Regions from separate parts of the Homo sapiens genome. Here regions 2 and 3 are each reported to be linked to region 1. Evidence: microRNA targets listed by miRTarBase, many of them from high-throughput screens and not tested one by one. Region 1 holds a microRNA gene; each other region holds the end of a gene's coding sequence.

Region 1 (3,250 bases):
GGGATGGCCGAATGGGGCCAGGCTCTGTGCCTCGGTCTGTACGCTGTGATCGTTCTGTGCCAATGGGGCCAGGGGGCAGAGGCTGCTCCCGGGGCAGCTCCTGGATTGGGCACACAGTAAAGTGCATTGGGGGAGGGAAAGGGAAATCCAAATTGGAATGCCCAGAACACACACGCAGAGAGAAAAAGCAGAAAAAGGTAGGGCCAAAGTCAGATTCCTGGAAACATTCCCCTTATCCTTTTTTGGTCTTTTACCTTTCTGTCCCCATCGTGGGGGGCAGGTGGTGGTCTCCTAGGAGGTTCAGAGCCAGGTGGACCCTCACAAGGAACAGCATTCAGGGGTGAGGAGCCTCCAGGCCTCTTGGGGGGTCCCTCTGCTGCCCCCTTGAGTCCTCCATCAGGGGAACTTCGCTGGCTGCAGGGACCTGATGACACCTGAGAATCCCCACTCAGGTCCACCCCACTGTCAGACTGACTCATCTGAGAGGAGTGGAGAAGGAGCTAGTTAAGTCAGGGTAGAAAGCACCCCAATACCTGACTGATGCACACATACAAACTGCAGAAAGGGGACAGCCAAGTGAGAGAACAGCTCCAGACTCAACCCAGAGCAGGTGGGGGGTATGACCAGTGCTCAAAAAAGTCCCAGCTCAGACACACCCTCCCACCCTCACTCACTTCTGTGCCAGCCACATCCTCAAAAGGACTCAGGGGCTCCATCCAAGGCTCCATGGAGCTGGGCCGGTAACTCTTTCGGCTAGTGGCTGGAGAAGGGAGCACCAACCAGAAGAGAAGTGAGGAGATGACAGTTCAGAAGCCCCTCTCATTCTTAACCCTTCTACCATAGTCCTTTCACTCAGCTTTACTCACCAGTATGTAAACGGTTCCAGATGTGAGGGGTCAGGGCCTCTGTGCCTGTATCTCTGGACTCTGCCTGAGGGCCTGGGCCCTCAGGCTTAGAGCCCAAGAATCCAGAGCTATGAGGAGGTGGCAAAGATTCCTACAGATGAGAAGGGCCAGAAGCAAAACATGAATTGGGTGGGAATTGGGAATTATAGGAAGCCAGGACAGAGTGGGGTGACACAGGGTGTGGGGACAACAAGGGAGACACATGGGAGACTAATACTGAGAATTCTGGAGTAAAAACACAGTGAAAGAAACAGGAAAGAAAACAGAGAAAACATAACCCAGAAGAATTTTCACGAGTAAGAGTGCAGTGAAGCACAATCTCAAACCCATCCCTTACCTCCTGTAGCAGCTCTGGTTTTCTGGGAGGCCGCTCCCGACGTTTAGGGGGAAAGGGACTAACCCCGGCAGAGTCCCGAGGAGTCCCACCCACCCCTCTCACCATTGGCCCCGGCTCCTCAAAGTGGGGGTCTGGGAAAGAGAAAAAGGGTCAGCATCTGCCTGGCTCTGCCACTGACCCTAACTTTTCCTCTCTACTCCACCTCCCAATTCTTCTACCCTTGCTCCCTGCAGAAACGCACCCAGCAGCAGGGTCCCTAGGCCAGGTTCTCCACCCGCTCCCTCCAGCACTTGACCTTCTCTGGGGATGGAGATATTCCCACCCATAACCCCTCCAGCTTACCAGAACTGAGGCCGCTGTTGACCCTCTGGGGCTCGTATCGGGTTGGGGGCCTAGGAGAGGGGCCCTGAGGGGCTTGGGGAAGCCCAGGCTTGTGCCTTGGATGACCCCCTGGTGCAGTTACACTCCCTTGACGGCTACTAAGCTGGGCCAGAGCCTGTTGGATGCCAGCAGGGTTGCTGTGGATAACTTGGTCCAGGCGGAAGACAGCAGAACTGCTGGGAGGTGGGGGAGGCAGGGGAAGCCCCGGGGGACGCTCCTCTGGAGGACGACTGGAGAAAACAGAGCATTAGCTCCAGTATCCACTAAATCGTTACTTTTTCCCACAAGTTATGTTTCCCAACTTCTGCTTACAACCTATTCTCTTCCCTATTAAAGTCCAGGTGTTTTTGAGTCCTTCTAAGGATTCCTATGCATACAGATGCACAGACTGGAAAGCAAAGAACCAGCAATGAATACATAGGTGGGTGTTCTTGACTCTAACACCCTACCAACCGCTTTCCAGTTGCCTTAGCCAGACATGGAAATCCTACTGACATTCTAGAGCCCATGGCCCCTCAGGCCACAATCTCCACTCCACCCAAACTTATCTTTCCCTCAGGCTTTTTCCCCCTCCTCCAATTTTTAAACCACAATAAATTTGTTTGTTCCTACCCACCTTCGGTTCTTGGGAGAGGGCCAGCTCCTCTTGTCGCCTCGTCCTGGCCCGGTCCTTCCTCCAGGACCCCCACCGCCTCCTCCACTGCTGCTGCCACTGCTGCCAGCCTTGCCCCCTGGGCCAGGGCGCCGATTCTGCCGTTCCATGCCTGGCCGCTGACTTGAGAAGCTCCGTTTACTCAAATCCTTGGCTCTCTGGCTCAGATCTCCGCGGGACATGGCTGAAATACCTGGTACGGCTCCACCTCCACCTCCCCCAGGAGTTCCCACAGCCTTGGGTGTCAGCAGTACTGGTGGGGGTGCCTCTTTGTCCCCTCGGCGCTCACTGGTGAAGTCACTGCTCTCTGATGCAGTCTCCCATTCCTCATTGGCTTGGTCTGAGTTCTGGTTTGACAGATCAGGAGACTTGGCAGCTGCCCGGCGAGGTGCTGGGGCCACTGTGACTGTTGTGAGGGCCTCCTCAGGTCCAGGAGCGGAGGCTGGAAGGGTTAGGGAGGGCTTGCCCTCAGACCCCCTTGCGGCATTCTCCCGTTCCTGCTTCAGCCTCCGGAAACGAGGCGGTTTATCCTGCTGCTGAGCCCTCCCATGTCGCCTCCTTCGGGGTCGCTCCCCATCTTCCATGCCCACATTGCTACCTCCATTGCTGCCTCCGCGCGCCACAGGGGACAGAGGCCCTGGGATCAACTTCTCTTTCAAAGGCTCCTTACTTGGTGGCAAAGGGCCTGTGGGAGGTTTCTTGGGAGCCAGAGACTTGGCTGGAGGGCTCCAGCCTGGGCAAACTTGAGGAGGGGGCCTCCCTCCTCCTCGGCCCCGGCGAGATGGCACCCCTCTGGGAGTGAAGACTCGCCCACCCCGGGCAGTGAAGCGGGCTGGGGCTGGTGAAGGTGGGGCTCCTGGTGGTGGGGGAGCGAGAGGGACCTGGGTGAGTGTTCCCTCCTTGGGTGTGGGAGCCTCCTTGTCTGAAGGAGCCAGATCACTCTCATGGGTCTCGCTGCCTGTTTCTGAGCCCCGC
Region 2 (3,250 bases), not on the chromosome of region 1:
AATACAGAAAGCTGTGTAAAGCTCAGGGCCCTTGTCCACTAGAGGCAAGGTGCCCCCTGACCCCTTCTTCCAAATATACTCTTTTGTCTCTTGTCTTTTATTCCTGCATTCGCCACCCTTTCTTCAGTCCACCAGGGATTGTGGCAGGTTACAGGAACTGATCACAATTCTCTCTCCACTACCTGGGTTTCCTCCTAGCTCAGACAAATGGTATAAAATCTTGCAACCCTGAACTTACAGGATTTCTACCCGGCTCCTAAACCAATGAACAACTTCCTTTGTCTTGGAGATTAATCCCTAGGAGAGACTCCCATAGGCCAGGCTCATTCTTCCAAGCCGAGCATAATCCTTGGGTATCAAATGGCCAGTTACTCCAATTTCCAGAGGTTTGGGATCACCTCCAGGGAGGAGGGCCTCGTCTGAATGGTGAATGTGGGTGCAGGCCATGGGCATGCTCAGCTCAGCACTCTGGGGTCTCCTCCTCTATTGCATACACGCCTGTCTGCTTTCTATTCTTTAGGACCAGTCCCTACTGGGGAGCCTGTATCAAACAGCAGGAGCCTGTATTCCTGAGAAGCATGAAGAAGCCACAGCAGCCACTGTTGGTACCTGCCCAGATCCACTCAGCATCTCTTCCGCAGGTTTAAGGCTGCTCACTTGATCCCATTATACTCTGCTTACGGCCCTCTTCTGATGGCAGAAGTGAACTTGGCCTATAAAGGGCAGGCCAGAAGTACCAGTCAATGCCCATGAAAATACCCCTTAATGACAGATGGGAAGTTGGTAGATAACACAATTCCCTTGCTCCTTGATAGGGTAACTGGGTTATGTTCTATAAAGTCCCCCACAGGTCCCCAGTGGGACTGAGTCCCAGTTGCCCAGAGTGGTAACTCGCTTGATAATGCACCTTTTATTGGCTGCCTTCCTCTCTATTGTCTCCCTTCTCCATTCCTCTATCAGTGTTTCTGGAATCAAATTCAAATTACCATCTGCACTCAAATTCTGAGTTGGCTTCTGGAAAACTGGAAACTAAGAACAGAAATCCAGTGCATAGACCAGAAGCGGTGGCTCACACCTATAATCCCAGCACTTTGGGAGGCTGAGGTGGGCAGATCACCTGAGGTCAGGAGTTACAGACCAGCCTGACCAACATGGTGAAACCCCGTCTCTACTAGAAATACAAAAATTAGCCGGGCATGGCGGCCGGTGCCTGTAATCCCAGCACTTCGGGAGGCTGAGGCGGGCAGATCACCTGAGGTCAGGAGTTTGAGACCAGCCTGACCAACATGGTGAAACCCCATCTCTACTAGAAATACAAAAATTAGCCAGGCATGGTGGCGGATATCTGTAATCCCAGCTACTCAGGAGGCTGAGGCAGGAGAATTGCTTGAACTCAGGAGGCAGAGGTTGCAGTGAGCCGAGATCACGCCATTGCACTCCAGCCTGGGCAACAAGAGTGAAACTCCGTCTTGAAAAAAAAAAAAAAAAAAGAAGAAAGAAAGAAAAGAAATCCAGTACATGGCCTTCTAAGCCATACATCCTTCCATGTGGTTGTTTTCAATAATAAAGCCAGTATTTTCATCTCCATTGCCTAATGCCTCTGTTGCCCAGTTGATTCTGAATTCAGCAGGGAAAGACGCATATTATTTATCACCCCCCAAGCCTCCAGAAAACTGAAAACAGATTTGGAGAATGCAGCCAGGCACTGTGTCAAGTGCTTACGGTAGTGCTAGCTACTGTGGAGGCTGAGGCAGAGGATCACTGGAGCCCAGGAGTTCGAGGCTGCAGTAAGCTATTATCGCACCACTGTACTCCAGCCTGGGCAACAGAGCAAGACGTTGTCTTTAAAATATATATATAGGCTGCGCGTGGTGGCTCACGCCTGTAATCCCAGCAATTTGGGAGGCCGAGGTGGGCAGATCACGAGGTCAGGAGATCGAGACCATCCTGGCTAACACGGTGAAACCCTGTCTCTACTAAAAAAAAAAAAAAAAAAAATTAGCCAGGCGAGGTGGCGGGCGCCTGTAGTCCCAGCTACTAGGGAGGCTGAGGCAGGAGAATGGCACGAACCCCGGGGGGCGGAGCCTACAGTGAGCCGAGATCGTGCCACTGCACTCCAACCTGGGCGACAGCGAGACTCTGTCTCAAAAAAAAATAAAAATAAAAATAAAATAAAAAATATATATATTAAAAAAAAATAACAATTTGGGGAATGCTAGAGTGGAAGGGATTGAGGGTCTTTACCCCAGGCACATGCAGCAGAAGTCAGGAAATGGCTGTGTGGCAGAGTTCACAAGGGAGGCAGGGTAGTCTCAACCCTGGGGCACAGCTGCAGAGTCCTGTTCTTCCCAGGCACTTCCTTGGCACACCCGGTGAAGCTGGGGAACAGATGACTCTGCCCAGCCAGCTCTCCTAGGACCCTCTCAGGTACGGATGGCAGGAATCAAAGCCCAGTATACAGAGTCTTTATTTATTGGAAGTCCTGATATCCAGGAAAGCCGGGCCCATGTCCAGGGCTCAGGACTCCATCTGGCCACTCTGCAGGGGAGGGGCGTGGGGGCAGTCATTCATGTCCAGTTTTCCTGCCGTCAGAGGAGTCCTCAGGAGGCAGGAAGTGGCTGTGCCTGTGGAGAAAGTACATCAACATCTAGTAGCACCTCCTCTGTGCCCAGCCTGGGGAGCCTATGTAGACACCACAGAGGGAGACCCTGCAGAGCCCACAGTCTGGAGGGAGAAGGGTGTTGGGCAATGACCTTGGCCCTGAGCCATGTGAAAAAGTCAGCTGTGGTGAAGTGTCATGGGAGGCAGGGAACGCGCCATTCTGCTATATTTACTGAGCACCTGCCGTGTACCCAGCAGGCAAAACTCTCTGACTCAAGCAGGGAGAGACGGACAATAAATATGTCAACATCCAAGAAATTCGATGAAGAAAATTTAATCAGGGTAAAGAGCAGAGGTGTGTGCGGAATGGGAGGGACATGTACCACTTTGATTGTCAGCCACAAAAACACAGGACATTCTGTAAAGTCTGTATGCCATGCTGCAGGAGATGAGAATGTTTGTGTTCGCTATTGTGTAGACCAGACAACAAATCTCACTGCCCCTAGCTAGGAAGGAAAAACTGTAACTGGGATGCCATCCCCAGGAAGGAGGGGATGATGAGGAGATGTGACCTAATTCCCTTTTTTTTTTTTTTTTGGAAGACAGAGTCTCGCTCTATCGCCCAGGCTAGAGTGCAATGGTGCAATCT
Region 3 (3,250 bases), not on the chromosome of region 1:
CACAGTCATAGAATGTTACAGCTGGAATGGGCATGGAAATCATCCAAGTTAAACTTCTTCTCTGCCCCCCGCCCCCACTTTTTTTTTTTTTTTTTTTTAACCAAACGAACTTGTGATCCAGTGCCCTATTTTATAGTGTGGTTTTCCAGGGTCTGAATAAATAATCATTAAAGTTTGACACACGCAGACACACGCACCAATGATGGGGATACCCCCAAATGATTTAGGAGGTTATTTTATTTTAATAGTTTTTTCTTCCTGATTTTTTTCAGTTAGTTAGAGTTAAATGTACCTATAGCCCCTGAATACATGCTCAGGTAGAGAAAGTCTCCATAGTATAAGTAAGTAATATGAATGTGGAATCTTGGAAAGTGATATATTTTGATTGGAATAATTTTAATTAAATTTAATGATTTTAATTAAGAATTAAAAGCCAGCTAGCCAAATTTTCTTTAAAAATTGGAAACTCATTATGGTCTTAAATTGTCCTCAGGCAGCCTTTTCCTCATCAACCCATAGAGTGGTCTTTTGAACTGGTATCTAAACATACCTGGTTATGAATTCTCAAAAGAGAAAGCAGGTCTGGGGCGGGGTGGTCAGGAGACAGATTCTAGGGAAAGTGCTGAAGAGATTTTCTTCTGAAGATGATCTAGGAAATGCATCTTTATACATGATTGTTAGCTGCTGTAGCTTTCTGAAGAAGATTGTAGAAAAGAGACTAAGATATATGCAAGGGTCACCAGTTTAGAGATCAGTCAAATTGGAAAAAGTGCCAAGACTGGATGTGCAGATTGTTCTATGTATTATCAGTATTTTTTTCCTCTTAAGAAAAAAATTTACTCTCTCTCCTTTGTGAGTAAATGCCTCCTTAATGCCTTTTAAGTAAGGTGGCAACTTTTAACTGTCATCTTGTGAGAGGCAACCTCAAACTCTAAGCAGACTCCCTCTCTCCCTTTCTGGTGTCTTAAATCAAGAACTAGTTTGAAGCCAAGGCAAAGCAAGGTTTGTTCATCTTCCTTTCCTGTCATTTAAGGTAAAACAGGCAATGAACTCGCTCTTCAAATACCATAGTTCAAGAGTAGCTGTTGGCCCTGGTTCCAGATTAATATAGCAGCAGGCAGATTGCCCCTTCTTGGGGCCACCACCCTCCAAAGCTGTGCCACCAATGAGAGCATTGGGTTCAAGTTTGCATCAAACATGGTATTACCAACGCTGAGCCTCCAGCAGAGCACTTAAAAGTCCTAGTGAGAGAATAGATACTATGCAAGGGAAAAAAATTTAAATGCCAACGAATAGTTTTTTTTTTTTTGAACCTGATACACTGTTTGTTTACTCTCAACTCTTTGTACAAATATTATTGTCCTAAGGGCCTTTTCCCCTCCTGCCTAGAAAATAGGTTGTGTATTGGTTTTATTCAACCTGCTGTCTGCTTTAGGATTGGAGAAGGTACCTGGATCCTTGTGGACTGCCACTGCTGGCTGCCTCCTCTCCAACTCATCAGAAGAGCATTTTGACAAAGACAGAGGACTTGGACCAGGGCATGCCCTGTTGGGGATGTTTCTGTCAGCAAGGACATGGCATGGAATCAAGTGGGCTGATGTGTTGTTATTTAAACAGTACCAAAGTGCATTCTTCAATGTATGTTTGCCTGCTTGAAGCAAGGCCCAAGTTGAGAATACAGTAAAGGAAACTCATGAAAGTGGATGTTCTGTTTATAGTCAGAGTCTTGTCTCTGGTGAACAATCTCAGACAAAAACATGGGTTAAGCTTAGGCTGTGTGTGGATTTTTGGTGCTGTATGTGCTCTGGGAGATGCCCCATGTTGGATGTCTTGCTTTGGCATTCAGAATGGCAGTAGAGATTAGGAGCAGGGATGGGGTTTCCATGGTGTACAACTACGTCTTTTGGCATAAGTTATGTCCAGTTTACAGTTTGCTCCAATTTACTGTCATGTTCACATTCAACCATTCATGCTCCTAATGAAGGAACCAAGAAAGAGTCTGAGTAAAGAACGAATATACAGGATGACACTGTCCCTGCACATTAGGGCTGTACTCACAAGATCTGGTTTTTAAAAATACCCTTTTTTGGAGCCATTGTTCAGGAATTTGTTAAGATCCCCTTGGTGTCAGTTTCTCATACAACAGAGAACAAATGTATCCCTGTTGCATCTGAACTGGAAAACCATTTTTAGAGGGAAGTGTGACAATGCTGCTGTGGCCTGGGTTCCAAGAAAGAATGCATGTGGCACCCAGTCTATTGCCCTGTGCACCCACTCTTTATTGCCGCTGGGCCAGGCACCAGGTCATGCCTGGGCCAAGGAGGGGAGATCCTGACAAGGGGATGCCACCTTGTGGCCAGCAAGTGGGGCCCAGCTGAGCTCTGAGGCCTGTGGCCGGCTGGTCAACCTTGAGGTGCGGTCCAGGGCACAGAGCCCTCGGGGAGAGCTGGGGCACAGGCCGGGTGGTGCACACAGCCCCCATGCACAGCTCTAGCCTTGTGAGTCACTGGCTGTGGGCTCCTGGCAGAACTCATCCATGAACTCGAGGAAGTGGCCGAACTTGGGCTGGCTCTCACTCAGCGCTGGGCAGGCCATGGGGAGCGGGGTAGTCCCGAACACTGTGCGCAGAGAGCCACTCACCAGCTGCCGGTAACGTGCCTGGAACTCCTTCAACAGCCTCTTGGCCTCCAGGTACTGCTTGTGGTTCACCAGCCGCCGTTCTGTCCACTGGTGCAGGACAGCACCTGCAGGAAAAGAAGCCAGGAGAGGCACCAAGCTCATCCTGGTTCTCACCTAGCCAGAAGCAAGAGGATTGGGTCCAGAGACCCTTGGAAAATGGGATGGTGTGGCAGGAGGATGCTAAGGGGCTAAAAATGGCCTTTCCAGCTTGGGAAGTCACTGACTTCCTACTGCCCCTATGCATTGACTCTATCTTAAGCCCTGGTTCAGGACCTTAACATGCTGTGTGATTTTAGGCAACTCCCTGCCTCACGCTGGCTCTCCTTTTGTCCATCTACATGTAGAGACTGATGTAGGCAGTTGCTCTCTAAGGGCCTTTCCTGCACTGACACAAGCCCTTTCTTTGCCTTTAGCCAGCAGGCGTGAACTGGATCTGGGATCCTGGCAGCTGTGGCAGAGCCGTACCTAGTGGAGCCTCTGTAATGTTCCGGGGATCCCGCAAGCGAATGAAGATGTCATCCAGAAGTTGGGCTCTAGTCTTCTTTGGGGGTGGAATCGGGATTCTCTGGGC

The links. Region 1 holds the annotated microRNA hsa-miR-6832-3p (ACCCUUUUUCUCUUUCCCAG, at 1,374-1,393, opposite strand). A microRNA usually pairs through its seed, bases 2 to 8, with sites in the 3' UTR of a target mRNA and lowers its output. Matches are read on the target gene's strand: a 7mer-m8 pairs with bases 2 to 8, a 7mer-A1 pairs with bases 2 to 7 and ends in A, and an 8mer does both.
Region 2: the mRNA of CHCHD5 is a reported target of hsa-miR-6832-3p. The part of its 3' UTR that is shown has no 7-base or 8-base seed match.
Region 3: miRTarBase lists XRRA1 as a target of hsa-miR-6832-3p. Seed matches in the 3' UTR shown: 7mer-m8 at 2,080-2,086 and 7mer-A1 at 950-956.

The regions. Positions count from the first base shown.
Region 1 is chr6:31,631,982-31,635,231 of GRCh38, reverse strand. MIR6832 (microRNA 6832) reads right to left here and starts at 1,445; the gene lies at 1,374-1,445. PRRC2A (proline rich coiled-coil 2A) reads right to left here. Exons shown (of 31, transcript NM_004638.4): 16 at 2,240-3,250; 17 at 1,585-1,853; 18 at 1,243-1,373; 19 at 867-996; 20 at 675-760; 21 at 255-479; 22 at 1-100. RefSeq lists a silencer at 390-553.
Region 2 is chr2:112,588,240-112,591,489 of GRCh38, reverse strand. CHCHD5 (coiled-coil-helix-coiled-coil-helix domain containing 5) reads right to left here. Exons shown (of 4, transcript NM_032309.4): 4 at 2,450-2,624. The coding sequence ends at 2,601. Among named protein-coding and RNA genes, the nearest start is that of CHCHD5, 5.3 kb to the right of the region's middle.
Region 3 is chr11:74,840,710-74,843,959 of GRCh38, forward strand. XRRA1 (X-ray radiation resistance associated 1) reads right to left here. Exons shown (of 19, transcript NM_001378157.1): 18 at 3,145-3,250; 19 at 201-2,744. The coding sequence ends at 2,491. RNF169 (ring finger protein 169) reads left to right here. Exons shown (of 6, transcript NM_001098638.2): 6 at 1-1,704. Among named protein-coding and RNA genes, the nearest start is that of RNF169, 93 kb to the left of the region's middle. RefSeq lists an enhancer at 3,144-3,250.